2 linked regions of the Homo sapiens genome follow. The protein of the gene in region 1 purifies or fractionates together with the protein of each later gene. This does not show direct contact. Each region holds a gene or a part of one and is shown on either strand. Other genes may lie near its edges. The genes, in order: ZP1 and ZP3.

What was found.
Region 2: the proteins of ZP1 (region 1) and ZP3 purify together in Homo sapiens (co-immunoprecipitation; 2 studies listed by IntAct). This does not show direct contact.

Annotation. Positions count from the first base shown.
Region 1 is NC_000011.10:60,868,128-60,879,167, reverse strand, and holds the end of ZP1 (zona pellucida sperm-binding protein 1 isoform 1 precursor), read right to left. Parts: intron 10,024-11,040; coding exon 9,902-10,023; intron 9,632-9,901; coding exon 9,268-9,631; intron 8,837-9,267; coding exon 8,693-8,836; intron 8,676-8,692; exon of another isoform or gene 8,212-8,675; coding exon 8,024-8,211; intron 7,952-8,023; coding exon 7,854-7,951; intron 6,007-7,853; coding exon 5,879-6,006; intron 5,794-5,878; coding exon 5,604-5,793; intron 5,535-5,603; coding exon 5,393-5,534; intron 4,236-5,392; coding exon 4,154-4,235; intron 4,040-4,153; coding exon 3,920-4,039; intron 3,655-3,919; coding exon 3,512-3,654; 3' UTR 3,481-3,511; downstream 1-3,480. UniProt on the Homo sapiens protein: Component of the zona pellucida, an extracellular matrix surrounding oocytes which mediates sperm binding, induction of the acrosome reaction and prevents post-fertilization polyspermy.
Region 2 is NC_000007.14:76,434,514-76,446,907, reverse strand, and holds the end of ZP3 (zona pellucida sperm-binding protein 3 isoform 1 precursor), read right to left. Parts: intron 6,659-12,394; coding exon 6,567-6,658; intron 6,434-6,566; coding exon 6,297-6,433; intron 5,067-6,296; coding exon 4,852-5,066; 3' UTR 4,839-4,851; downstream 1-4,838. UniProt on the Homo sapiens protein: Component of the zona pellucida, an extracellular matrix surrounding oocytes which mediates sperm binding, induction of the acrosome reaction and prevents post-fertilization polyspermy.

The sequences.
Region 1 (11,040 bases):
CTTCTCTCCTTCAGTCTGAGGATTTGACTGCACACACCAGAGAAGAAGGAATTACACTTTTCATTCTCAAGGTGATTTTTTTTTTTTTCAATACATCCTGCCCCATGATAAAAATAGGCAGGATTCCTTGCTGCCCACTTTTGCCAGAGGCTTGTTTCTCCTTCACTCTTGCACTGAGGACTGGGACCTCTGAAGTTCCAGCTTTAGAGGAGGCCCTGCATCTGGACTTGTTGCCTTTGTAGGCTCCGGGCTTGATCTACAGTTCCCTGGACTCATCAAAGCAGAAGGCCAAGGTCTCCAGAGTCCTGTAGAACTTCCCAGAATAGAAGCTGATTTTACTTCCCAGAGTTTTTGCTTTTTATTTTTGGCCTATCTGCACGCCTCATTCCCCATGTTAATTCAACACTAGTCTAAGAATATTTTAAAATATTTATAATCTGGTATTTTAGTTGTTTACTTCAGGTTGATCCAAGTATCTAGTGTTCCTACTGCTGGAACAGAAGTGGCACTTTTCCATGAAATGTTCTCACATAAGTGTCCAGACAGGGAGTTGAATTCAGCTGAACTAACAGGCGGTGAAGTATTCTGTCCCCTTTATTAAAAACAAAGCACCATGAAGTTAATTTGCTCTCAATGTATAATGTAAGTATATGGAAGCTGGTGGGGGCCTGGGGAATGGAAAGACAGGGGATTCCCTTAGGTCTTATATAGATATAGCCACAGCCTCTGCCCCCATCCCCATCCCCACCTCCCCAAAAGGGCAGGAAGAGACAAAACCTGACGGGCCCTGAGCAGCTCTGCTTCCTGCCACAGGTCAGAGACAGTGGTTATTGTCCCCATCGGGTCTGATGAATTGTTCTCAAGGTCCAGCAGGGGCCTGCTCACATCAGGAGGCAGTAAGAAGGGAGGAAGAAAGCTTTAAATTGGGCAAAATTTAGACTAAATTTTGTTATCTAGGAAAGCCAAAGTTTAGATTGCTTCCCCCGAGAGAAAGCTAGCACTGCAGTGAACTTCATTGTTCATATAGTTTGTATATTTGTTTCAGTAAACAGACTCCTTTGACATGGAATTGTTGACAAAATCTATGCACAATTTATCAGTTGCCAAAATCATGTACCTATATACACTTGGAAGTAGGAGATACACAATTGCATTGTTACTGGAATATCACAATAAAGCAAATGGATACTTGGATGATTATATAGGATAGGGGAAAGTCTTTGCCATACTCAAAAATACAAATATGAGAGGGAAAAATTCATTGTTACATAATCCTTTCTAAGATAAAAGAACCCGGCAGAGAAAAGCCAATGGCCAATTAGATGGAAAATTTATAAAATGAGGATACTGGCCCCTTGATTTGTGAAAGCTCTTTACAGATGAGGAGAGAAATAGTGGAGAGTAGATAAAAGACATGAAGGGTAACTTATGCGATACCAATGGCTAGAAAGATGCTTGACTTCTAATCAAAAAGAGCCCCTTCAAAACGGCCAATGCCATTTGCCTTATGATGCTCAGATAGGCAAAGATTTAGAGTGTTACTGGCCTGTGGTGGCAAGCCTGCACAGTGGGATTGGGTGGGGAGACACTCAGACAGTCCCGAGTCCCACAGTCATAAGAGGTGTGGTCTTGACCCAGCAGTTCTAAGACTGTCTTTCAAGAAAATAGTATACAAAGAACTATATGCTTAAGTAATTGTGTTCAACACTCGTCATCCTTAACCCACTTGGTCTCTATCAACAGATCAAATATCATAGTTCAACCGCAGTTTAGAGACTACCTCTATTTGAAATGATAGGAAATGACACAAGACATCCACCCTTGTGTTAAAGCAAATTCAGTTACACAGCATTATTCCAATTGGTACCTCTGGAAGTTTGAAATCCTTACATGAGCTTGTATGATGGAGGGAGGGGAAGGAGGAGGAGTTAATGCTGGAAGGAACCAGAACCCAGGCCCCTAAGACCAAGTCAACCTGGCTTCTCCAACCAGCCAAGCTAAGAATCCTCACCTATATCACACTGACCCTGCAGGATATATCCTGTGTCTCCCTGTACAAGCCAGGAAGTTGGGCAGGGCAAGACTGGCCGTTGCTAGCCATAGATGGGAAGACAGGCCCAGAGAAGGGAAGTCACTTAGCTTCCATGGCAAATGTTTGGGCCTTCCTGCCTTTTATGTTCTCCCTCTAGCTAGAAGAGTCAAAAGACAGCAGTTTCCCCTAGCCCCTCTTCGTATTGGCCTGTAAACTTGTACATACAAAACCAAACCAAAACATTGACAACAAAAACTAAGTAAGCATTAGGCTTGGGGCAAGAGGAAATGCAATTCTAGTCAGTAGTTAATAGCACCCAGTTACTGTTGGCCGTTATGTACTATTCTAAGCATTCTTATCTGTTAACTCATTTTACCCAATACTTCTATGGGAATAGACATTAACCTCATTTTACAGATGAGAAATCTGAGGCCCAGGGAAGTTGAGTAACTTACTGAATATCACACAGCTAGTAAGAAGCCAGCTCTGGGGTCCACATGCTTGTCCAGTATTCTGAAGACAGGAAAGGCTGAGTAGGCCAGAGCTGGATGAGTAGGGGGTACATGCAGTATTAAGGCCACAGGCATGACTTGAGTACCTCAGCTCCTCTTGTAACAGCTCTCTAAGCTCGTGCTCTACCTGAAGTCCGGAAAGGTGTCTGAAACCAAGTTCAGGCTTCCCTACCAGATTCTTCTCCCTGTCCCATTGAGGCCAAACCCTAGCATCCTGTCCCCTTCTCCACCTAGAGGATTGACATGTCTAGAAAGGGCTTTGCTGCCAAGTCAGAGATGAAGGCCCATGCCATACATGGGCAAACTGGGCTCAGCGGCATAGCCAGCACTGGCACAGACCTGTCTGGTGGCCATGCCCACCATCGCAGCCAGTGTCAGGGCCAGCAGGCTGCCATTCCTCCTGTGCCAGCCCTTCCCACATGGATAGTCTTGGGAGGCCAGGGGAAGGGATGGGAGGCTGTGGTCAGAAATGCAGCCTTTAGCGGTAGGCTGGCAGGCTCAGGGGGTCTGTGAAGTGCTCCTTCAACTCAGTCTTAGAGTAACCCTTATCCATGACAGCAGCTGCTCAGGGTGCTTTGAGGATGCCCTTGTCAGAACTTCTGTGTCTGTGAGGAGGTGACAAGCCTTCACAAGCCATTCATTCCTGCCAGGGGCCCAGTTCCCAGCTGTTGGTGTTCTTTGACTGTCAATGTCTTAACCTCCAGTATCTTTGTCCTGTTTGCTCTGCCTGAAATGCCACCGTTCCTTGTGGAGAGGCAGAGGCTCCCGAGTTGAGCCTTGGGGGACATTGGCCTCTGTGCAGGGTGTGGCATATATGAAGTATTTGTAATCAACGTCACAGTTTTGGAAGGACAGAGCTGACTTGGAGGAAGTTTCTCACATAAGAAATAGTTCTGTTCTAGTCGTCACAAATAACTTCTCCACACCTGGTTTCAGTAGGTTTGAAATGATTGTTTATTGGGCCCATTCACTGTCTGTTGCTTTCCCAGAGCTTCTGGGCCCAGGTCTGGCTCAGGCCCACAAAGACACCAAACCCAAGGACCAGGGCAACAGCTGGCAGCAAAAGGACCGCCCAAAGGAGAGGTCTCAGGCTGGAGTTCCCATTGGAGTCTGTCAGAGAGACGGGATTGGCAGGGCTGGGTGAGGCCCCTCCAACCCTCCCCTCCACCCCAGAACTTTGTATCACACTGGGCAGAGCTGAAGCTGCCTTTCTGCAGATGAGGTGGACTGTGTCTGTCTTCACTTAGTTCCCCACTGACTGCAGTGACACCATCTCTTGCCCTCAGCTATGGCTGGAGCATCCCTGTTTTGTCAGCACAATCTTGGGGGCTGAGAGTGGGTAAGGCCTGAGGGGCCCACCCAGAAGCCCTCCTACCTGTGGGCCCAAGTGTGGGCTCCTGCCCATAAGAATCCTCAAAGCCCACTGGCCCCGGAGAGCTCACGATGTCCTGGGGCCTGGCAGTGTCATTACGGTGACCTGAGGATCGTCGCTGTCCTGCCCAGGGGAAGAATGAAATCTTGGGCTGGTCTCCTGCCCCTGTGGCCCAGAGGCCAGGCACAGGCCTGAAGATGTATAAAGGAACAAATACCACTCGCAACCCAGACTCACTTGTAGTGCCAGTGCTACATGCAGTGGAGCAAGTCTCCAGCCCTGAGGTGTGGCAGGCAGAGGTGCTGCAGAACAAGTAAACCTGGTGGAAGGAGAAGAACATCAAAGTGGCTGGCTCAGTGCCACCGGGCAGGAAGCACAAAGGGAAGGACATGGAATCCCCGAGCTGGGCCAAGTCTAGGCTGCTGCTAGCCAGGCAGGGAGAAATCTGAGCTGCTTGACCAAGATGATGACTGCTGCCCATGCTGAGGGAGTGCAGAGCTGAATGTGTTCCTTCCAGATTTGAAATCCACACCTTCCTTGCTCCCCAAGGTCCAAGTCTGCAGTGGAGTGCCCTGCAGGCGGGGACCACCGCACTTCGTAATGCCCCAGTCCTTGGCGGGCCTGCTTCACCAATGCTGCCTCTGGCTGCACAGCCCCTGGGAGGGCTGGCTCTCTCCCTTCCACCTGCCCTACTGAGGGAGACAGCAAATTCCAAGGAGGTGGGACTTGGCCAGGCAGCAGGATAATAGATGTTTGCCCTCCCTTTGTGACCCCTGGAGACCAGTGACTGGGGGCAGAGGGGAGGGCAGATTACCACCGCTTCCAGATACAGAAGGGCAGGGGCAGTGCCCTACGGGACCAGAAGCAGGAGGAGCTGACCCAACCCAGCACCCAGGAGGCCCCACTCATGGGCAGCACACAGCAGAGATGAGAACGAAGCCACACTAACCAGTGCTTCCAAGTGAAATCAGTCTACATCTGACATAATAACAGGCAGTGATTTAAGAATCTAGAGATTTGGGTATGTGATGTGAAAGATACGTTGTTCAATGGGACAAGTGCATCTGTCACCTCTGAGGCCATCTGTATATTACATAGGAGACCTAAATATACCCTGAGTTTATCTACCTTTACCTTCTGGAGAAGTTGCTGAGTTAAAGAAAATTCAAAGAATTACATGGAACACATTATCATTTCTGGAATCAGAAGTGAGGTGAGGCCACCCTAGAACACCATGACCAGAGTTCAGATTTAGGGCTGATTGCAGCACAGGCAGCATTTTCCTTCCTCCTGGTGGTGGTTATGGGTTACCTTCTTGCTGACCCGAAGCCCGCTGCTTTCCATGACACCTGGTAGACGCCAAGCCCCATCCCAGAACTTTGTCCATATAAGTTCACAGGGTGCCAGAGGGATTTGGCGACCAGCTCCTCCCACTTAACAGATGGGACCAGGCATGCGGCAGCCGGGGCTTCTTACCAGTCCTCTGAGGGCTCTCTGGGAGCCTGAGTCCAGGAGGGCGAAGGTAGCAACAGTGAATCGCTGGTAGTGCGACTGGAAAGGTGTGGCCCCGTCCAAGGCTACCATTTGGGTTCTGTAGCTGTCGCCCTTGAAAGGGCATCTGAGAAGAGAAGTCAGAGAGGCTGTTTACAGGAGGCAGAGCAGGTGGGGGGAGTGTGGGGGCACTCACCCGTCTGACAGGATGGGCCACTGGGGCTGCTGGAAGGGGTTGGCACTGGGAGCGCCCCAGCACTGGTGCAGCAGCAGGACCAGGTTGGGGTCTGTCCTCTGCAGAAGCCGGACCTCCACATGGACTGGTTCTCGGAGCAGCCTCACGATGGGATAGTCATCCTCCCCATAGTACGAGCTGAAGGTCTCGTCTGCAGGGAGAGTGACTCATGAGCCAGGGCGGGCTGTGCATCAGGGAAGTGGGGGCCAGAAGAGAGCAGGGATAGCATAGCATACCTTTGGCAATCCGCAGCTCAAGCCGCAGGGGGCCGGGCTGGGTCATAGGAGCAGGCGATGGGGGTGGGAAAATGGATGCCTGAATGGGCAGGAAGTCACTGGCGTTGAAGACACAGCGCACATGAAGCCTGAAGTCCACGTGCAAGAGGGTGGGGGAGAAGACACAGAATCAGAGCATCCTGTTTACGTAATAAACTAGGCACCAACTCCGTGGGTGCAACAAATAGGGTACTGTCCAGCAGGGCAGATGGATGCTACTTAAGCAATACTCAGCATTTCCAAGGCAGGCTCAGGAAGCTCACCCTGCCCATTCCTCTGCCCACCTGGTCTCCCTGGGATGGCTCAAGCCTGTTATGCCAGGCCCTGCACCTGGTGGGAGAATACAGCAGGATAGAGATGGGCCCTCGGGGGGCTGGCACCTTGTTGGGTCTGCCCTGGCTACCCACAGCTGCCTGCTGTGCCGTTCGAGGCCCCTGGAGCCTGACAGTTGAGGCTGGTGAATGAGCCTAGGTGCTCTGCCTCCCGACAGACCTGGATTTGAGTCTTCTTAGCATTTACAGGCTTTGGGACCACAAGCAAGTCTTCTAACCTAAGCCTCAGTGTCCTCATTTGTAAAATGGCTGTGACTGCCTCCCTTTGAGGGCACTGAGACTGAGTGAGATCACAAGATAATGCACCTGTGTCTTCATTGTCCTTGTAGTTGCAGCTGGTTTGCCACAGCCTAAAGGCCACAGTGTCTAGCATCTTCCTCACTAGCCTAAGGGCCATGGTGGCCACTCCTCCACACTCTGGTGGGGCCAACACCCTCCTAGCACCCCAGAGGCCTGGTACCAAGGAGATGCTGAGTAGGTATAGGAGGCTCACCCCTGTTCTGAAGGCCTTGTGTCTGAGGAGCTCTCTGGCCTAGTCCTGCTGGCTACAGCTGTTTCCCCCTGACTTCTGCCTCCCTCTGAGAATCCCTAGGCACTCTGTTGACCTCTGGCTGACTCCCAGAGCTCTTACATCAGAGAGTCTAAAGGCATGACACAGACTTGTCCTCCACCACTTGGCCATAAGAACATATGGGTTTTTTTAAATTAAAATAAAAAATAGAAATGGGGTCTCGCTGTGTTGCCCAGGCTAGTCTTGAACTTCCAGCAATTCTCCCACCTAGGCCTCCCAAAGCGCTGGTATCATAGGCGTGAGCTACCACCTCTGTGCTACTTAGAGCTTTAAAGCCAAATACATTTGAACTGTGACACAGTCCCCTGCTCCCCAACCCTCACGGCAGGGCGGGAAGGGGAAGGAGATGCCCAGCAACCATGCAGTGTCAAGCACAAGATTTCTACAACCCATTGGCTCCGTCCCACAGGGTGAAGGTTAGGTGCTTTGCCCCTGGTCACACAGGTTCAGAGCCAGGCATGACAGACAGATTCCCTCGGGTCACCCCCACTGGCATCCTGGGCACCTGGGTTGGTTTTGCCTCTTGAGTCAGCAGGTCCAGGAGGCCCCTAACAATGAGGGGTTCCTCCCCCACCCAGTTCCTCTCCCACCACATCCTCAGAGAGGTATCTTCAGCTTCATCTGTGGCTTCTTAACCTGACATTAGGAGGGGCAACAGCCGTAGCCTCAGCCTCCTCCTGGGACCTGGAAGGGGACACTTTCAGTTGCTTTGAGCTTGGTTCTTGGAGAGACCAAGACAGGGCTCTCTCAGGACTCCAGCTCTCTCAGGACTGGCCCTGGGCTTCTAGCCAAGCCCTGCAGGCCAGGCATGGAAGGGCTCCACTTAACACTCATGTCTGCCCTGAGAGAGGGACATTTCCCCTGCCCAGCAGGGGAGGCTGGGAAGAGGTGGGCCCCTTGCCTAAGATCACATAGCCGGGTAACAGCAGAGCCTGGGTTTGAGCTGAGATGGCTCCGAAGCCTGTACTGAGCTCGCCTGTGCCCCTGACACCCTAGCACACAGCCACGCCTGTAGGAGGAGGGCTGCCCTTACTGGAAGGTGCTGTCCCGCGTGATGGAACCCTGTGGCCCCTTTTGGATGTGGATGCCAGACACCAGCCAGTTCTCATAGATGAGCTGGTCGCCAGCCACCTGTAGGAAGAGACAGCTGGGTGAGGCTTTCTGGTGGGGGACCAGGCCCCAGCCTGTGGTCCCGGCTCCTACCTGCATTGTGGTTCCACAGTGGGTGAGAGGGAAGTAGAAGACCACGAAAGCTTCCGTGTGCTGTGTTGGGGAGCAGCTGGTGGGGGCATAGGCCAGGTGGATGTTGGCCAGTGTGATCCTGTGTGTCAAGGCCATTTCTTGGGACACCACGAGGACGAAGTAGCCATCTCTGAAGCACTGGACAGTAGCTGGGACAAAGGCAGATGAGGGCCTTGGGGTTTGGTGTCCATCCAGCACAGAGACGGGATGGCTGGGTGACAGCCAGGCTTTAAGTGCCGGTCTAGGAGAATGGACGCTTACTCTCCACTTAGGCTGGTGTTGGCCCCAGCAAACCCTTTATGGACTGATTTTCTCATCCATGTGACAAATGAGTTGAACTACACTCTAAAAGTAGGTTCACCATATAATCTGTCATCCAAACCAGGGCGTTTCAGATCTGAAAGTCCAGATGTGTGTAAGGTAGATCTATTAATAGTTCCCTGGGACAGTTGTTATAAGGCCAGCTGGGACATGTGACCGCCCCATCTAAAGGTCTCCTCTGCCATCTGCTCTGGGAGTTGGGCTCTCCAGGAGGAGGATAGGAAGCAGTTTCCACCAGCTGGAGGAGACAGCTCTCCTTCCGCTTCAGAATCCAAGGGACCAGGATCTTGCTGGGGTGGGAGGTTGTACCTGTGTTGCCATAGTAACAGGGAACCTCTCTGGTGTTGTCATAGCAGCAGCCAGCCTGCTGACAGGCTTCTTTTGAAGTTCTTCTCACGATGCAGGGGAGGTGCCCTGAGGCCACCTGGCACTGCTCCTGGCTCAGGTGGGTACCTAGGGTTGGGACAGAGTGATGAGGCTGAAGGCACACAGTTTGCAAATCATGGCCCTGGAATTGAATCTTGGGAACCTGCTCCAGAGCTTGTGCTCTTAGCCAGCACAGTAAATGTCCTCCCTCAAAACTGAATATTACTGAAATTTCTAGAGAATATTTTCTGAGAATCAGGTGTTGCTGGCAATGGTTTCAATGAGTTTCTGCCTAAAGTTAGGAAACAAATTTACAAGACCTCTTCTAGCTTTAGTACACCTATACATGTTTAAAGCTGTTTTCCAAATACTACAAAGGAATAAAAGAATCATCTTTTTCTAAAAAAAGAAAAAAACAAAAAAAGAAATGGCTTAGAGCCCAGTAAAAGGCTGTTAGGCCACCCTGTACTCCAGAAGTCCCCAGACAGAGGGTAAGTACACTCAGATGTCCTGCGTACCTATGTAATCTCGTTTGTTCACATCCCAGTGTTCCAAGGTGCCCCAGTGGGGTTGAGCCAGGGTGGCGAGGGTAGGTCCAGGTCCAGGGGATGGTAAAGCAGGGGTTGGGTGGACAGAGCTGTGCCCTGGGTCCAGTGGGCTGGGAAAGGCATGGCCAGAGCCTTGGGAGGTATGGCCAGAGGTGGGGAGGAAGGAAAGGGTTTGTGGGGTTGAGACAGAGAACATGGCGGGTGGTGCCAGCTGGGAGTCCAGAGTCCGGGAGGGGTCAGGTTTGGGACAGATCAGAGTAGCGTCTTGTGCCACATCCACACGACCATTGGGCAGCACAGCCTCCATGAACACCCTCAGGTGGAAACGCCCATCCTGCAGGTGAGAGGCCATCATAGAGCAGCAAGGTGAGGCCACCTAGCATACCCAGGCAGGGGACGGGCCCACGAGAGCTGAGCTGGCCATTAGGCAGGGAGCTGGATTCATGGTGGATTCCAGAAAGTACCTTCCAGAGCTTAGTTTCCCTCACCCACCAGCTCAACAGATCTTCGGCTTTGGCTCCTTTCTGGTTCATGAGGGGCCTCTTCAGCCTGACATGACACTAGGACAAGCTTGCCCCTGTGCCAGAGCATGAACAACCCCTACCTTCTCCAGCACGTGGCAGCCTCTGTAATCGGCCGAGAAGACTGCAGGCTCCTGCGGCCTGGAGGTGACCCAGTGGTAGCAGATGGAGCAGTTGTTGACATCAAATCGGTTCCCAAATTCATCTGCAGTGGGGGAAGGGGAGGGGCCAGGGATGTTGAAGGGTGCAGGGAGAGGTTGCTGGGGTCTCGGAAGGAGTTCCCACTCAGCAGCCAGGAGACCTGGGTTCTTGCCTTAGCTTTGCTATTAGTTTGTTGTGTGGTCTTGGGCAAGCCCCCTCCCCTCTCTGCTCTCAGTTTCCACAGCTGTAAGGGGATGGGAGGGTCTTAGGATCTTTCTAGCTAGGGTTCCCTGCTCACAGCACACGGCAGCAGGCAGGCACGAAGATGAGGTGGAGAAGGGATACACAGGGTCTCAGGCACTGGCCTGAGTATTTCACATCACTTCTTTTAAGCTTAGTTATCCACATCCTGTGGCTGAGGCAGCTGAGGAAGGGAGGGTGCGTGAGCTTTCTTAGGTGCACACAATGAGGGGCAGAATGAGGATTTGAATCCTGGGCTTTGTAGAAAGATCTGAACCCATTTCCCAGGTTAACTGTGGCTGCTGCAGTTGCTTGGAGACACCCCCTAGGTGTCCACCCTGCTTGTTGCCCCAGAACAGCCTGGGCATTCCCTGGGTGTGGGCATGTCCCCATGCCCTTGTTCCATGAGCACGGCCAGGTTCATCTTCCCCACCTTGCAGATGAGGAAACAGAGGCTTATGAGTCAGGTCAGTTGTCCAAAATCATCCCGTTTAGAAGCTGCAGATCCAAACCCCAGTTCTAAACCCACACCAGGCCACGCCTACTAGGTCCTGCTGCTGGAAGTGGTTTATGGACCCTCAGCCTCAGTTTTGACTGAGCGTGGTTAGAGATGCAGAGCCTAGGCTGGGTGCAGTGGCTCACGCCTATAACCCCAGCACTTTGGGAGGCTGAGGCAGGTGGATCACCTGAGGTCAGGAGTTCGAGACCAGCCTGACCAATATCGTGAAACTCCATCTCTACTAAAAATACAAAAAGTAGCTGGGCGTGGTGGCACACACCTGTAGTCCCAGCTACTAAGAGGCTGAGGCAGGAGAATTGCTTGAACCTGGGTGGTGGAGGT
Region 2 (12,394 bases), on another chromosome or scaffold:
TGGCCAACATGGCAAAACGCCGTCTCTACTAAAAATACAAAAATTAGCCAGGCGTGGTGGCATGTGCCTGGAATCCCAGCTACTTGGGAGGCTGAGGCAGGAGAATCGCTTGAACCCGGGAGGTGGAAGTTGCTGTGAGCCGAGATTGCACCACTGCATTCCAGCCTGGGTGACAGTGAGATTCTGTCTCCAAAAAAAAAAATAAATAAAATAAAGGAGGGCCAGGCACGGTGGCTCACGCCTGTAATCCCAGCACTTTGGGAGGCCGAGGGGGGCGAATCACGAGGTCAAGAGTTCAAGGTGACTATAGGGAGAAAAATTATATTTCAATAGAAAAACGATAGTTTACCTGTTATTATAGTAATGTTCATTGTTTGAGTTATTTATCTACCTGTAGACTGGATTAGATTCTAGATTCTTCCAGTTTTCTCTAATGTCTGGCTACAATCTCCAGTGAAGAATGAGAACTGGCTGGGCGCGGTGGCTCATGCCTGTAATCCCAACATTTTGGTAGGCCGAGGCAGGAGGAGCACTTGAGGTCAGGAGTTCAAGACCAGCCTGGCCAACATGGTGAAACCCCGTCTGTACTAAAAAAATAAAATAAAATTAGCTGGGCATGGTGGCATGCCCCTGTAATCCCAGCTACTTGGGAGGCTGAGGTGGGAGGATGGTTTGAACCAGAGAAGTCGAGGTTGCAGTGAGTTATGGTGGTGCCACTGCAATCCAGCCTGGGCAACAGAGTGAGACCCCATCTCAAAAAATAAACCCACACCCAAAGTGTTGGTTTACAGAGGCTTTCCAATGCAATAGGAAGCTTCTGGAAACTTTAGGGAAAGAGGAGGATTAAGCAATGGAGTCTAGAGAACCCTCAGTGGCTTGCCACTGCCTTTCATTTCCAGTCTAGTTCCCCTGGGAGGCAGACAGGCCGAGCCCTCTGACATTGCTGCTGGAGGCTGTCTCTCCTGGCAAAGGCCCAGGGAAACTATCCTGCTGAGGCCCATCTGGAGCTGGCAGGGAGCTGACATTCATGGCCACATCTTAGTCATAACTCCTCCCCTCCCCTGACACAGCCACTTCCTCTTTCTGCTGAGAAAAGAAGTTGAATGAAGGACAAGCTCTCAGAAAGTTGCAACCCCTAAGAACTTGAGTACAAGGAAGAGACGGATGTTTATTTCAAGAACCGTTCCCCGATGTCTCCTGGCTCATAGAACAGCTCCAACAACACGTGCTTGGATGCCAAGTGTGCCATGAAGACCAATCCTTGCTATAATCCTGATGGAAAGAACTTCCCCATCTGAAAAGAGGATGGTGATAAGTAAACAGATTGTCAGGGGTAGAAGTACCCGTCGGACCCCAAGCCTGGAGCATTTTGCCAGAGACCTTTTTTTTTTTTTTTTTTGAAACGGAGTCTCGCACTGTTGCCCGGGGTGGTGCAATCTTGGTTCGCTGCAACCTCCACCTCCCGGGTTCAAGCGATTCTCCTGCCTCAGCCTCCCAAGTAGCTGGGACTACAGGCACATGCCACCACGCCTGGCTAATTTTTGTATTTTTAGTACAGATGGGGTTTCACTATGTTGGCCAGGCTGGTCTCGAACTCCTGACCTCGTGATCTGCCCACCTCAGCCTCCCAAAGTGCTGGGATTACAGACATGAGCCACCACGCCCGGCTCAGAGACCTCTTGCATGAGCCATGATTCTACCAAGCGCTCTACTCATTCCCCCAAGAAATCACGTCATCCCCTTTTTACAGATGAAGTTACCTGCTAAGCTAGAAGTGGCAGGAAGAAGCCAGGTGTGGTTTGTGGCTGCTTGGGAGGCTGAGGCAGGAGGAATGCTTGAGCCCAGGAGTTGGAGTCCAGCCTGGGCAACATAGCAAGACCTCGTTTCAAAAAAAAAAAAAGAGTGGCAGATGGGACTAGGGCCTGGGGATATGGCTTCAAGGATGTCTCCCAGCCTGCAGGCCGCATTCTCTGCCATTCCAGTTGATCATCTTGACAGGGAAAGTCTACCGGCACACGCATGCTTAGATGGGCCAGTATCTCCCTTATCTGGCCCATGAGGCCTCCCTCTCCAGGCCAAGCCCCACTCTTTACTAGGCACTGAGGCCTTCCATGCCCCCAGGGCACAGATTCTCCCATTTCTCTCCCCTCTTTTTTTTGAGATATTCTCACTCCAACACCCAGGCTGGAATGCAGTGGCACGCTCTTGGCTCACTGCAACCTCCATCTCCTGGGTTCAAGTGATTCTCCTGCCTCAGCCTCCCCAGTGGCTGGGACTACAGGCACCCACCACACACCTGGCTAATTTTTATATTTTTAGTAGAGATGGGGTTTTGCTATGTTGGCCAGGCTGGTCTTGAACTCCTGGTTTCAAGTGATCCACTCGCCTCGGCCTCCCAAAATGCTAAGATTACAGGTGTGAGCCACCACATCCACCTCCCCATGGTTGAGGATTTGCTTCTGGATCACCACCTCCAGGAAGCCTACCTCTGCAACCCCTAGGCAATTTTGTTTTTTGAGAAGGTCTTGCTCTGTCACTCTGGCTAGAGCGCAGCAGGAGGCAGCAAGGCTGGGACCTGAGCAGTGAGTACAGCTCACTGTAGCCTTGAATTCCTGGGCTCAAGTGATCCTCCAGCCTCAGCTTCCCAAGCAGTTGGGACTACAGGCACGTACCACTGTGCTCGGCTAATTTTTATATTTTGTAGAGATGGGGTCTCACCACGTTGCTCAGGCTGGTCTTGAGCTCCTAGGCTCAAGCCATCTTCCCACTTCGGTCTCCCAAAGTGCTGGCATTACAGGCCTGAACCACTGTATCTGGCGTTTTTGAACCCCAGCCTGTTACTCCCCTACAGATCACACCACAACCTGCTTAGGCCGCAAGCGGCTCACCCGGAACAATCCCTTCGTGCCACAAGTCCCTGGCTCAGTGCCCTTAACCACTCAAATCACCTGGGTTTTTGTTTTTTTTTTTTTTGAGATGGAGTCTTGCTGTTGCCCAGGCTGGAGTACAGTGGCGCGATCTCAGCCCCCTGAAACCTCTGCCTCTCCCGGGTTCAGGCAATTCTCCTGCTTCAGCCTCCCAGCTAGCTGGGATTACAGGCACCCACCACGATGCCCAGCTAATTTTTTGTATTTTTAGTAGAGACGGGGTTTCACCATATTAGCCAAGCTTGTCTTGAACTCCTGACCTCAGGTGATCCACCTGCCTTGGCTTCCCAAAGTGCTGGGATTACAGGCGTGAGCCACCATGCCCACCCCACCCTGGGATTTAAGATGCAAATTTCTAGGTCTGGGATGGGGCTTTAAATGATACATTTCTAACAAATTCTCAGGTGATGCCAACGTTCACAGACCACACTTAGAGTATCAAAGGCCTTCCTGCTCTCAGTAGGTCCAAAGCTACCCAAACCTTGCTCTGAATGCACTATAGACATGTCTATACCCGAGTCAACACGCTGGAGCCCCTGCCCTCAGCCAGAAGGGCCAGAGATAAGCACCATGCCAGTTGCACCTGAGCATCTTTCAGCTTTCATCAGTTTATGCCTAATCCTGCTCAGTAGGTGCCACCCCCATGTTGCCCATGAGGACTGGCAGGCTCACAGCAAGTAGCCAGCCAGGCTGGGATGCTGCAGCGCAAGTGAACTTCCCCGAGTGAGAATGGCTTGAGTTTGGGGCAAGGCTGGAGCCAACTACTGAGGGATGTGAAGCCTCCCACAGAGGTACCATGAACACCTTCCCCAGCAAAGGGGGCACAAGTTCCCTGGGCACCCTCCTTGGGGCACAATTCCCTTATTCACTCCTAGGAACTATGGCTGAAACCTGGGGGAGGGAAGCAGCCTATTTAGGGAGTGCGATAAAGGTAGGGGGAGGTTGAGAAGCAGCTCCCCCCAGTGACAGTGAGGCCTCATGTCTATAATCCCAGTGCTTTTGGAGGCCAAGGAGAGAGATCACGTGAGGCCAGGGGTTCGAGGCCAGCTTGGGGAACATAGCAAGACCCAGTTCCTACCAAAAATAGAATAAATTGGGCACAGTGGGGCTCATGCCTGTAGTCCCAGCAACTCAGGAAGCTCAGGCAGGAGGATGGCTGGAGACCAGGAGTTCCAGGTTGCAGTGAGCTGTGACTATACTACTGCACTCCAGCCTGGGCAACACAGCCAGACCTTTCTCTCAAAAGGGACAAATCAAAACAAAACCAAAACCAAAGCAGGTTCTCAGCTCTCCTGAGGCTTCCTACCCCCAAAGCAAAAGTACCCACCTCAGAGCCACCTCAGGACCACCGGCTTATGACATTAGGCTGCCTCCTGGAATGGCTTGGAGTGCCAGTCACCCCTTGCTGCAGCTTTGACAAGTTCATACCAACATGTCCCAAGAATAGCTTCAAGCCCAAGGTGACAGCTAAGACCAGGCAGAAGCAGTGCTCTGATCACTGCCCTACTGGGAGGGCCCAGTCATGACTGGCCTTCTGGCCTCTAGCATCTGGACAGAGCTGCCTGCCTGCTTGCCTTGGAGAAGTGGGCCTGGAAGCTCTCTCCTCCCCACTCCCATGTCTAGAGTCAAATCCATGGGGGCCAGAGATATAAGATTCTTTGCTAGCCTAGAAGTAAGGTGGGTCCAGCCAGACTGACCTTCATCTAAGAGTTTCCATGTTGGTTCCCATGGAGGTGATAGATTATAGTTGTCTAAGGACATGAACCCTGCCCTGTTTACAGTAGAGACACAGTAGTGCTTGCTGGACTATGCTATGTGAGTGCACGGGGCGGGTGGTATACAGTCGTCCCCACCCGACACAGTCAGTACTAATTCTGACCTTCCATCTGACCACCACACCACGACCAGATATTGCTTTCTTCTTTTATTCGGAAGCAGACACAGGGTGGGAGGCAGTGCGACACCTCCTGGTGAGAACCAGGATAACAGCAGTCAGAGTCAGGGACACCACCACAGCCAGGCCTACGCCCAGCAGCACCACTGAGGTGTCAGAAGGCAAAGCCCACTGCTCTACTTCATGGTCACCCCTCCTGTCCAGGAAGATCAGTGGCCCCACGGTGACATCTGCTTCTTCTGTCACTGTGAAAGGAGAACACACAACCAAGGGTTATCTTAGTCCCTAACCGGGAACTGGGTTGGAGGTTTTATTCTGCCTCAGTGGGCTAAACTAATATGTTGTCTTTTTTGTGTGGGCTAATAAACAGTTTCTAGACAAAAAAAACACAGCTTTCTCGGCCAGGTGTGATGGCTAATGCCTGTAATCCCAGCACTTTGGGAGGCTGAGGCAGGCAGATCACCTGAGGTCAGGTGTTTGAGACCAGCCTGGCCAACACGGCAAGACCCGTCTCTACTGAAAATAAAAAAGTTAACTGGGCATGGTGGCACATGCCTGTAGTCTCAGCTACTTGGGAGGCTGAGGCAGGAGAATAGCTTGAACCTGGGAGGTAGAGGTTTCAGTGAGCAGAGATCGTGCCATTGCTCTCCAGCCTGGAGGACAGAGCTAGACACCATCTTGGTGCAGGGGAGGGGGAAGAAAAAAGAAAAAGACAGCTTTCTCATACGGAGAAAGCAGGTCACCCAAGAGGGATTCCCTAGTACATCATCTTTTTTGTAGAGACAGGGTCTTGCTATGTTGCCCAGGCTGGTCGAGAACTCATGGGGCTCAAGCGATTTCCCTGGCCTCAGCCTCCCCAAGTGCTAGGATTATAGGCACAACCCACTGTTCTGGCCAGATTATTATTTTTTTTTTGAGAGACAGTTTTACTCTTGTTGCCCAGGCTGGAGTACAATGGTGCAATCTCGGCTCACTGCAACCTCTGCCTCCCAGATTCAAGTGATTCTCCTGCCTCAGCCTCCCAAGTAGCTGGGATTACAGGCATGTACCACCACGCCCAGCTAATTTTTTATTTTTAGTAGAGATGGGGTTTCTCCATGTTGGTCAGGCTGGTCTCGAACTCCTGACCTCAGGTGACCTGCCCGCCTTGGCCTCCCGAAGTGCTGGGATTACAGGCCTGAGCCACTATGCCAAGCCAGATTATCTTAACAACTGCTATATTTCCCCTACATGCCTAATTATGTCTCAGTAGAAGCCTAGGATGACAGCAGATCTCCCTGGCTGCCACCGAGGTGGAAGGCTGAGAGCCCCTCCTGCTTAACCCCAAGATTTGTGTTAGGGAAAGGTAGCTGCAGGCCTAGGTACAAACAGTTTTAATGGAGGACAAGGGAAAATACCATCACCCTGAAATGACAGCAGGTACCCTCAACTGAGTAAGGGACAATGAACAGCCTCTTGGCCATTCTGTGACATACCATGCCTGCGGTTACGGGAAGCAGACCTGGACCACTGGCTCATGACATGAGGCTGCCTCCTGGAATGGCTTGGAGTGCCACAGTCACCTTTGTTACAGCATTGACAGATGTCAGCCGAGCCTTCCACTGGGAACCAGCTGAGATGAAAGAGAAGCAGCTTAGATTTTTGTTGCCTGCAGGAAGCAGTTTGCTGATAATATATTGGGGGAAATAGACAAGGGGTCGCCGATTCAGTTTCTACTCCAGTCACGGAGCACCTGTCCTCCTCACCTGTTGGAAGGCTTGCTGAAGGAACAGGCCTTGTTGAGTTCATCTGGGTCCTGCTCAGCTAGGGTGACCTTCAGGTGGCAGGTGATGTATATCTGCAAGGAATAACAGCTATTTCCAGGCCGAGTTCCAGGCTGTGCCTGGGAGTTTAACACACCAGTTCTCTTATAACCCTCAACCCTTTAAAGAGTGAGAAGGGGCCGGGTGCATTGGCACACACCTATAATCCCAGCACTTTGGGAGCCCAAGGCGGGTAGATCACCTGAGGTCAGGAGTTCGAGACCAACCTGGCCAACATGGTGAAACCCCATCGCTACTAAAAATACAAAGTTAGCTGGGCGTGGTGGTGGGTACCTGTAGTCCCAGCTACCTGGAAGGCTGAGGCAGGAGAATCACTGGAACCTGGGAGGCAGAAGTTGCAGTGAGCCGAGATCATGCCACTGCACCCCAGCCTGGCTGACAGAGTGAGACTGTCTCATAAAATAAACAGGGGGAAGGAAGAGCCTCATCTCTAAGATGGTGTAAAGGTTCACTTACCCAATGTTAGAGCAAGTAGCAACTAGTTTTAGACTGGAATCCACCACTTATTCCCCTGATCTTTTCCAAACTTACCCAATCATTGAGCATGCTTGACCCTGGGCTTCTGAGACAGGGCCTGTCACCCAGGCTGGAGTACAGTGGTATGATGATGCCTCACTATAGCCTTGACCTCCTGGGCTCAAGGGATCCTCCCACCTCAGCCTCATGAGCAGCTGGAATTACGGGTACAAGCCACTACACCTGGCTAATTTTGGATTTTTTGCAGAGATGAGGTTTTGCCATGTTGCCCAAGCTGGCCTCAAACTCCTGGGCTCAAGTGATCTGTCCGCCTCAGCCTCCCAAAGTACTGGGATTACAGGTGCCAGCTATCCGTGCCTGGCCAGTCCTGGGCTTAACTCAGCATTGCTAAACCCGCGCCCATCCCCAGGTGACCGAGGTGAGTGGTAGACACCTTAATAGCTAGCAGCTTAGCTGGGCTTCTGACGCTGCCACCTGCCACTTGACTAGTTGACAAGCTACTTTTCTTCAGGGATGTAGTCACTGTATTGCCAGCTAAGGCAAGACCAAGTTGTTTCTGGGACCTGAGGTCCTTGGGCACATAAAGAAGCCTTTTGGACTTGCTTCTGTGGAGTTTCCATTTCAGACTTAAGAGGTTTTTTTTTTTTTTTTTTTTGAGGTGGAGTCTTGCTGTTGCCTAGGCTGGAGTGCAATGGCACGATCTCAGCTCACTGCAACCTCTGCCTCCTAGGTTCAAGCAATTCTCCTGCCTCAGCCTCCCAAGTAGCTGGGATTACAGGCACTTGCCATAATGCCTCGCTAATTTTTTTGTATTTTTAGTAGAGACAGGGTTTCACCATCTTGGCCAGGCTGGTCTTGAACTCCTGACCTTGTGATCCACCTGCCTTGGCCTCCCAAAGTGCTGGGATTACAGGCGTGAGCCACTGCGCCCGGCCAGACTTGAGTTTGATGGCTCACTCTTTGGGCAAGCTTCCCTGGGCTTTTCTTCCTTGCACATACCTCTGCTATTAGTCAAGCCTACGTCAGTCTCCCTTCACCTGTAAGGGATATGACGACCAGAAGACTCACCAGGCTGATACCCTGACAGTCCTGGCCTCTGGGAAACGTTTACCCACCCTCGTTAGACAAGTACGAGGGAATGAACCCAATATGAGCTCCTGCTGGGAGCTGAAAGACCCCCCACCACCCAGGGAATAGTCAACTACCCTGTAAGCACTGCCCCGCTACCCTTTTTTTTTTTTTTTTTTTCTGAGACGGAGTCTGTCTCTAGTCCAGGCTGGAGTACACTGTAGCCACTACCTCCGAGGTTTAAGCGATTCTCTTGCCTCAGCCTCCCAAGTAGATGGGATTACGGGTACCCACCACCACACCAGGCTAGTTTTTGTATTTGTAGTAGAGATGGGGTTTCCCCATGTTGGCCAGGCTTGTCTTGAACTCCTGGCCTCAAGTGATCCACCTGCCTTGGCCTCACAAAGTGCTGGGATTATTGGCATGAGCCACCGTACCTGGCCAAGCCTTCTCATTTTAGACTGACATTCCATCCTGCTGCTGGGGCTAGGGGCCATTCTGACAGAGCCAGGGCTCAGTCTAGCCTTGGCCCGTCCCCAGGTCAGTTTCCCTTCATATTTCAGGCAGGGCTAAAATTCCTCCCTGCTCAACCTCGGGCAGAGCATGGCAATTCTGCCACCTTCCAGCAGAAGCCTCAGAGCCACAAGCCTCAGTCACCACCTAGTGGCCAAGTACACCAGCAGAGAAACTTGAAACCATGTAAATTCAGACTTTTAGAAACAAGCCAGTTTAGCAGTTGTCCAGCTGCCCATCTTAGCCACCTGCCCTGCAAGTAAGAAGCTTCCAAGGCCCTGTTGTCTATTCCACAAAGGAAATGTACTTTCATCCTTAGCTTTTTCCTAGTATGTTTTTCTGGTGCTAACTGGAGTCTAAGATCCCAGGGCAGTTCCCCTATAGCGGCCTTTTAGAAGCAGGGTCTAGGCTGGGCGTGGTGGCTCATGCCTGTAATCCCAGCACTTTGGGAGGCTGAGGTCAGTGGATCACCTGAGGTCAGGAGTTTGAGACCAGCCTGGCCAACATGGTGAAACCCCATCTCTACTAAAAAAAAAAAAAAAAATACAGAAATTAGCTGGGCATGGTGGCAGGTGCCTATAATCCCAGCTACTTGGGAGGCTGGAATGGAAGAATTGCTTGAACCTGGGAGATGGGAAGTTGCAGTGAGCTGAGATTACGCCATTGCACTCTAGCCTGGGCAACAAGAGTGACACTCCATTTCCCCCCAAAAAAAAACAAAAAAAAAAAAAAAAAGAGGGGAGTGTGATAGCTCATGCCTGTAATCCCAGCACTTGCTGAGGCAGGTGGATCACCTGAGGTCAGGAGTTTAAGACCAGCCTGACCAACATAGTGAAACCCCATCTCTACTAAATATTCAAAAATTAGCCAGGCGTGGTGATTGAGTGCCTATAATTCCAACTATTAGGGAGGCTGAGGCAGGAGAATGGCTTGAATAAGGAGGTGGAGGTTGCAGTGAACCGAGATCATGCCATTGCATTCCAGCCTGGGTGACAGAGCGAGACTCTGTCCAAAAAAAAAAAAAAAAAAAAAAAGTACACAGGGTCTTGCTCTGTTGAGGGCAATAGCACCATCATAGCTCACTGCAGCCTTAAACACCTGAACTCTGATCCTCCCACCTCGGCCTCCCAAGGTGCTGGGATTACAGATGTGAACCACCGTGCCCAGCCACCCTATTGCTCTGAAATAGGGTTGTTCCTTCTTTGTGCCATGGGACATAGTCTACTGAGGCATCATCAATCCTACCTTTGAAGGGGGGCCCTCCAAGGGCTCAGACTATCTTCCATTAAACAGCACTGTTCTCTGGTCTTAGTTACCCCTCAACCCCCAGAGATTGAGAAACCACCTCAGTCCATACCCATGCTGACCGCTACCACCTCTGTGAAAACTTCTCTCCATCTTCTTCCCAAATGGCCACACCTGAGGTCAATCTTGACTTCCTCCCACAACCAGGATCCTCTCCCCTAAGGAGCTATCGGTCACTGATCCGAGGGCCAGGACTCTTTTCCCAAATCTGCCCTCCTTTATCCCCAGCCCCACTGAAGCAGGGCCCACCACTGAGAGCTTCAGGCCATCTCATCAATATTAGATGCTTTTCCCTTTTGCTACCCTACTGATCTGTGTGTTGATCTTTCTCTTCCCACAAGGCAGCTGCTGGAGGAGGTGAAGTGGCATCGATGTCATCTTTGAAAAGTTTCTACTTTGTCCCTTAATGCCACCCTGACGTATGAGCCTCTGCTTCAGAGGTTTGCAAGCCTGGCTGCGTATTAGAGTCACCTAGGAGCTTAAGTGGCTTTTGATGCATTTCCAAGTAGAATAAGGTAGGTCAGTAGATGGAGGATAACAGTAAAATGCTAGCAGGCCGGGTACAGTGGCTCACGCCTGTAATCCCAGCACTTTGGGAGGCCAAGGCAGGTGGATCGTTTGAGGTCGGGTATTCAAGACCAGCCTGGCCAATATGGTGAAACCATCTCTACTAAAAATATAACAGGCACTCAGTAGTGGCGTATGCCTACAATCTCAGCTACTTGGGAGGCTAAGGCAGGAGAATCGCTTGAGCCTGGGAGGTGGAAGTTGCAGTGACCTAAGATTGGGCCACTGTACTCCAGCCTGGGTGACAGAGACCCTCTCAAAAAAAAAAAAAAAAAAAAAAAAAAAAAAAAAAAAAAAAAAAAAGGGGGCGGGGGGCGCGTGGTGGTTCATGCCTATAATCCCAGCACTTTGGGAAGCTGAGGCGGTTGGATAATGAGGTCAAGAGTTCAAGACCAGCCTGGCCAAAATGATGAATCCCTGTCTCTACTAAGAAATACAAGGATTAGCCGGGCATGGTGGCAGGCGCCTACAATCCCAGCTACTCAGGAGGCTGAGGCAGAATTGCTTGCACCCGGAGGCAGAGGTTGCAGTGAGCCAAGACCGCACCATTGCATTCCAGCTTGGGTGACAGAGTGAGACTGTCTCAAAAAAAAAAAAAAAATGCTGGTGGTAGAACCTAGATGGTGTGCACACTGAAGTTCATGGAGTTTTACAGCAAACACCTATGAAGATTTAGTTAATGTTACAAAATGTGACACCATGCCCTACCCCAATAGAGTGAAGGTATGAGACTCTCTACAATCAGTATTTTTACAACCTCTCCAGATGATTAGTATAGAGCCAGCACTGGAAACCCCTACTTTAATCACTTCCTAACCACCTATTCTAAGCTCACCGCCTCACCTCTCATCTCAGTGAGCTTGTTTAAAAGCTACTTGAGGCTGGGCATGGTGGCTCACGCCTGTAATTCCAGCACTTTGGGAGACCGAGGCAGGCGGATCACCTGAGGTCAGGAGTTTGGGACCAGCCTGGACAACATGGTAAAACCTTGTCTCTACTAGAAATACAAAAAAATTAGCCAGGCATGGTGGCGGGTACCTGTACTCCCAGCTACTTGGGAGACTGAGGCAGGAGAATCACTTGCACCTGGGAACCTGGAGTGGCTGGGACTACAGGTGCCCACCATCATGCCCAGCTAATTTTTTGTATTTTTAGTAGAGGGGGTTTCACCGTGTTAACCAGGATGGTCTCAATCTCCTGACCTCGTGATCTGCCCGCCTCAGCCTCCCAAAGTGCTGGGATTATGGGCACGAGCCACCGCACCAGGCAATTTACTTCTAACCACTTACCAGTACTTCCCGGCTAGATGTTGGTCCTTGCACCTGCACTTCCTACTGCATCCCTCCCCCACCTCAGCCATTAGGCAGTTCCCATCTTCATTCCTTCCTTCTCCTTCCCTCTTAGTGTCAATTTGAGTTTTCTAGTTTAGGTTCTCAAGGGGAGGACCCAGACTGGCAGAACCAACACTTAAGAATGCAGATTCTAGGCTTCACTAGACCACCTGAATCAAACCCTGGGTTGGGGCCCAGTCATCAATTTCAACAAGCCCTCCAGCTGAGGATGATGCCTTCAGAATCACTAGCCTAACCTATGACCAAGTTCAAGAAGCCACCCTGGCTACGAAGTTCACACTGGTTTTCTTTGCCCCTGCAGAAAGCCTCCAGGAAGGCTAACACCTGCCTTTTTTTTTTTTTTTGGAGATGGAGTCTCACTGTCACTCAGGCTGGAGGTGCAGTGGCACAATCTCTGCTCACTGCAACCTCTGCCTCCCAGGTTCAAGCTATTCTCCTGCTTCAGCCTCCCAGGTAGCTGGGATTACA